Linked DNA regions of Homo sapiens: region 2 is linked to region 1. The links come from fine-mapping of genetic effects on gene expression. Tissue or cell type: esophagus mucosa. Region 1 holds a variant in brackets; the other region holds the start of a gene. All regions are shown on one strand. Distances are from middle to middle.

Region 1 (2,755 bases):
TGGGCGATAGAGCGTGACTCCATCTCAAAAAAAAAAAAAAAAAAAAAAAAAAAAACAAAGGAAAAGAAAAAGAAGGGACAGGAGGGCCTCCTTCCGCTCCTGACCAGCCCCTGCTGGCCCGTGGGCAGAGGGAGAGCCGGCTTCCAGGGACCTCAGGGAGGGACGTTTGGGAGTGCTCTCTCAGCGTCCCCTCCACCGCCCTCTCTACACCCTTGCCGCGCCCCTGTCCTCGTCGGCCAGGCCAAGGTTTCTCCTGGCCCTTCCCAGCTTCCGGCCCTTTGCTCCAGGGCAGGTCGCAGGGCCAGACGGTGCCAGGAGCTCGCGAGTCCTCTGTTTACTGTTTGGTTTCCACGGTGACACGTAGGCGCCGTCAGCGACTCCCGTCACCGCCCCGCAGCGCGGCCCCCACCCGGCGCCGTGACGCCGGCCCGCCGCTTCCGCTCTGCCCATATTTGGCTCAGCCACTGCGCCGCCGGCCCGGGGTAGGCTGTGGGCGGGACTCCCGCCGCGCCCCGCCCCCGGTCCCTGCCCCGCCCCTGGAATGCTGGGCGAAGGCTCCGAGCCACGAGACCCCCGCCTCCTGTCCCGGGACCCACCCAGGCGGAGGCAAGGGCAGGGGCGCTGGGGGCCCAGAGAGAGGGCGCCGCGATGGATGAATGAGCTGTTTCCAGCATTCCTGTGCGTCTGCTGGTTGTAGCTGCAGTCAAGATTTGGGGCGGTCTCGTTTGTTGTGGGTGGGTGATCTGGGATCACGATTTTCTCACTCTGTGCCCGGAAATCATGCCATCTCTCGCCCAACGCTGTATTTTATAGGCTTCAACTCAAAATTTTCCTTCATGGCACAGTGGAAAGCTTTGAAGACGGCGGTTCTGGGGTCAGTGTTGCCCCTCGGGGGATAAGTGACCTTGGGAAGGCCATTTTCCTTTTCCTGGCATGATAAAACGAACCGTGGGGGTGGTCCATAATGGTTGCAGCACTGTCATCAGGCTTGTGAGGGGAGCTTTTCCATCACCCTCTAACCACCCCCTCCCCAGGACATAACTGGAATATCAGTGAAGTTCTTTGAGCATCGACCCCCTACAGTTCTGCCCCCTGTGGTGATTGGATTTGTGTGTCTCTGCACCTTGCTCCTATTAGGCGCTTAATGAACTTTAGTTAACTGATTATTGAATGAATAATACGAATCACCTTCATAAATCCGGACCCCTGCAATTCCTCTTCCAGGCCGGGCGAGGGGGAGGGTAGGGGATGGGGGAGAATATTGAGATGATTAATAATCGCGCGGCAGGGTTGCTGATGTAAAGCGATTTGCAGATCTAAAGGGCAATAAGCATTCCTGGGAGAAATCCAG[C/T]GAGATTCCAGAAGTCTCTGAGGGAGCCGTGGGTGTGTACCGCCGGGCCCAGAGGGCGGGGGTGGGGCAGGCAGTGCCGCAGTGGCCGCTGCTGGGGAGCCGATTGCAATTGCGAGGAGAAGCGTGGGGTTAATCCTTCAAGACGCCTGTCACCATCCTCCCACCCCCATCCCTGCCCCCTAGATTCCCCAGTTCCTCTGGCTGAAGGAGTGTGTGTTTTCCAGAGTTTCAGAGCTGGAAGTCACATCGGAGACTTTTAATCTAATTTAACCTATTTCGCCAACAGGGAAATTAAAGCTCAGAGAAGTTGGTTCGACCATCCAAACTTGCACAGCTAGTTAGAAACTGATAAAAGTCAGGATATCTAGCTTCAAATAGTGTTCCACATCGCCTAGGTGCTTCTAATTTCCTGTGCTTCAGAACCCTGTTGCCTGGCTCAGCTGGTGGGTTGTACATTTAGGCTAAATATTGACTTCAGGGCTCTTAAAGAACGCCATTGTCACGTCTGCTGCCACACGCAGCCCACACCATGACACCAGGGCCTGGGGGGGATGGCCAAGAATTGTGTACTTCCTAAAGCCTCAAGCATTCCTCCTTAGAGCAGCTGGAATGGTCACCCCTGTCCAGGGAACAGGAGTCGGCTGTTCTGAAACCAGTCTTAGTCTAGCAGTTGGTCACTTTTCATAGTTACCCAAGCCTTGCATTAAACTTTTCTCAGCCAAGATTACAGCAGGAGGCAGGAGTAGCCCTAACCCTTTTCTGCTGTTTGGAAGTCTTTTCATGGCACATGGAGGGTTCCTTGCTGGGGGTGGGGAAGAGTGCCTCTTCAATGCTTCTCTCTTTCTCTTTCCCCTTTCAGTCTCACCCAACTTCCTCTTACACGCTGTTTCTTCCCTAACTTCTAGGCTGAATATGAAGGCAACTCGGACTAAGAAGACGACTGCTTTCCAACTGCCCTCCCGTCCTGCAGCCGCCTGATTTGAGGAAGGGGCTGGGATCCTTCCCCTTGCCCTCTGGTTGTTCTTGGAGTTACAGCAGCCCCGCGGCAGCTCTGCCCCCTAGTGCACATGTGAGGCAGCGCGCCCTTCTCCAATCCAGAAGCCTCGTCGCGGTGCTGCCAGCAAGGGAGTTTTTCTGTATTCACTTTGGTGGAAATAGCAAAACTTGACAGAAAAAAAACCCAAGCCAAACCAAAACACACGAACCATTCTAGCCTTTTCTCTCTTTCGTTTCTTTCTGAGGATCTGGCCGATTTGGATGCAGAAAACATGCCTGTTGCTTCTGCTGCGAAATCTGCTCTTTCTCTTCCTGCTATCGGAACCCTGTCCCTTCTTTCAAAGCCTAATTCAGGCCAGGCGCGGTGGCTCACGCCTGTAATCCCAGCACTTTGGGAGGCCGAGACAG
Region 2 (2,613 bases), 530 kb before region 1:
AGATTACAGGTGAGCACCACCACGCCTGGATACTTTTTGTATTTTTAGTAGGCATGGGGTTTCACCATGTTGACCAGGCTGGTCTTGATCTCCTGACCTGGTGATCTGCCTGCCTCAGCCTCCCAAAAGTGTTGGGATTACAGGAGTGAGCCCCCGCGCCCTGCCTCTGCGTTTCTTTTCTGTCTATGAAATTATCCCGATTGTTCTGCTCATTGGAACACTGTTTCTGCTTTATAGAATGAGACGTTGCCCAATTCTAGAATAGCAGGTAAAAGTTAATTAAGATCTTTAAACTAAATTTGTTGTAATTTTGTCTTTTGACATGTAATTTTCTGTATATTCGTTATACTTCAATAAAAAGTTAAAAGAAACATAACTAAATTTCTATTTGAAAACAGAAGCTCTTCCTTTTGAAGGATGCCTTGCTGCTCCACTTTCCATTCACATTCACCTCCTGAGAGAGGTGAAGATCTGGGTTGCTAAGATGGAAGAAAGGTCAATTATTTGCATGTTACTCAAGTGATGCACTGACACAATATTCTCACAGTTCTCCCTCCCCCCGCCCCCCCCCACACACCCAAAAGAATTCAGTGTATTAGCTTTGCTTTTTAGTGATTCACTCAAGCTAAAGTAAGAGTTTATGTCTGGTATTACGTTGAGAGCTTTTGGAAGATTATCTTCCAGGTTGTCTTTAGACCATCTTTGTATCTGGTTTTTGCTCTCTTTGCTTTTGCTCTGAGATTCTGCAACACCGATTTATATGTGTTGAGACAGTCTAAAAAATTCCATTTCTCCCCTTCTACAATTCCTGCAGATGTTACTCACTATATGTCTGCAGGAATTGGTGTAATCTTACACTCTGCCTTGAAAACACCTTTCCATTCTTCACAGCTTTGTTCCCAGTTGAATTTCTGGGGAGAATTGAGTTAGGTCTATTCATTTAATTTGGGAGAAACTGACATCTTTACAATTTTTCCTCTTTTCACCCAGGATCATGGTAAGCCTCTCCATTATTTGAAGTCTAATTTCATCCTACTTGGATATGCTTCTTTATGACTCTGTAGCTTTCTACATATAAGTCCTACATCTTTCTTGTTAGAGTTTTTCCTAGTTGCTTTATGTTTTTTTGTTGTTGTTGCGATTGTTGCTATTGTGAATGGAACCTTTTTTTTTTTTCATTCAAAAATGAACCCGTGGAGCGATAGGATCTCTACCACCTCTTTCGGCTGTGAGACTCTATGGTTTTTCAGTTCTATGAGAACATTCTACTGGAGCCTACATTATCTGAACCCAAAGGAAGATGGCAACCACGAGTCGCCAAGTAAAGGACCGCTCTATCTCGCCTTTGTTCTCCTCTCGGTGGTTACTGCGCAGACGTAGTCGCCCAAGTCGCGTCCCCGCCTTCCCGGTCGCGGGCCCAGCTCGGGAGCGCCGGCGCACTGGCGCGCTCCGTTTACACGCTCCGGGGCCTGTAGGCGCCGCGAGTTCCGGCTGTCGCCGTCGCCGCCGCGGCTCCTGGAGGTCGGTTGCGACGAGTAACGGCGCCAGGACGAGCCCTGCGCCTTCTTTTTCGATATGTACCCGAATTGGGGCCGGTATGGCGGGAGCAGCCACTATCCGCCGCCACCGGTCCCACCGCCGCCGCCAGTGGCGCTTCCTGAGGCCTCGCCGGGGCCCGGGTACTCGAGCTCGACGACTCCCGCGGCCCCCTCCTCCTCGGGCTTCATGAGCTTCCGCGAACAGCACTTGGCGCAGCTCCAGCAGCTGCAGCAGATGCACCAGAAGCAAATGCAGTGCGTGCTTCAGCCCCACCACCTTCCTCCGCCCCCTCTGCCGCCCCCGCCAGTGATGCCGGGGGGCGGCTACGGAGACTGGCAGCCGCCACCGCCACCGATGCCCCCGCCACCCGGGCCGGCCCTCAGCTATCAGAAGCAGCAGCAGTACAAACACCAGATGCTCCACCACCAACGAGACGGGCCTCCTGGTTTGGTTCCAATGGAGCTGGAATCCCCCCCTGAATCTCCCCCTGTGCCGCCTGGGTCCTATATGCCCCCATCTCAGTCTTACATGCCCCCACCTCAGCCGCCACCCTCTTACTACCCCCCGACCTCATCTCAGCCCTACCTGCCTCCTGCTCAGCCGTCCCCTTCGCAGTCCCCACCTTCCCAATCCTACCTGGCGCCCACCCCTTCTTACTCATCCTCCTCCTCTTCCTCGCAATCCTATTTGAGCCATTCCCAGTCCTACTTGCCCTCTTCTCAGGCATCTCCTTCCCGCCCCTCCCAGGGCCATTCTAAATCCCAACTACTAGCTCCACCACCACCGTCCGCCCCCCCTGGAAATAAGACAACTGTCCAGCAAGAGCCTTTGGAGAGTGGGGCCAAAAACAAGAGTACTGAACAGCAGCAAGCCGCCCCTGAGCCAGATCCCTCTACGATGACTCCACAGGTAAGAAAGCATCTGCCTGAACCTCATCTTTCACCTAGAGGGCCCTGAATGAGCAGGCCTCAGGGCTTTAACCAGTGGTTAGTCTAATTCCAACACACAATGACTAGCTAACACTCCAAAGGATTCCGTAAGAGTCAGAGGGCTGACAGCTCAGCTTTTTAATTA

Direction of the effects. Alleles are on the strand shown, and positions count from the first base shown. SD is a standard deviation of normalised expression in the study named.
For the expression in esophagus mucosa of the gene that starts at base 1,402 in region 2, C is the low allele of the variant in region 1 and T is the other (small effect, 0.17 SD a copy in GTEx).

The links. PIP is the estimated chance that this variant, and not a neighbour inherited with it, causes the effect.
Region 2: YLPM1 starts here. The variant in region 1 is fine-mapped to the expression of YLPM1 in esophagus mucosa (GTEx, PIP 0.98).

The regions. Positions count from the first base shown.
Region 1 is chr14:75,293,864-75,296,618 of GRCh38, forward strand. LINC01220 (long intergenic non-protein coding RNA 1220) reads left to right here and starts at 541. Exons shown (of 3, transcript NR_038421.1): 1 at 541-678; 2 at 814-874; 3 at 2,257-2,547. RefSeq lists an enhancer at 109-248 and a silencer at 319-778. The variant C/T (reference allele first, on the strand shown) is at 1,352.
Region 2 is chr14:74,761,915-74,764,527 of GRCh38, forward strand. YLPM1 (YLP motif containing 1) reads left to right here and starts at 1,402. Exons shown (of 21, transcript NM_019589.3): 1 at 1,402-2,448. The coding sequence starts at 1,576. RefSeq lists an enhancer at 1,110-1,449.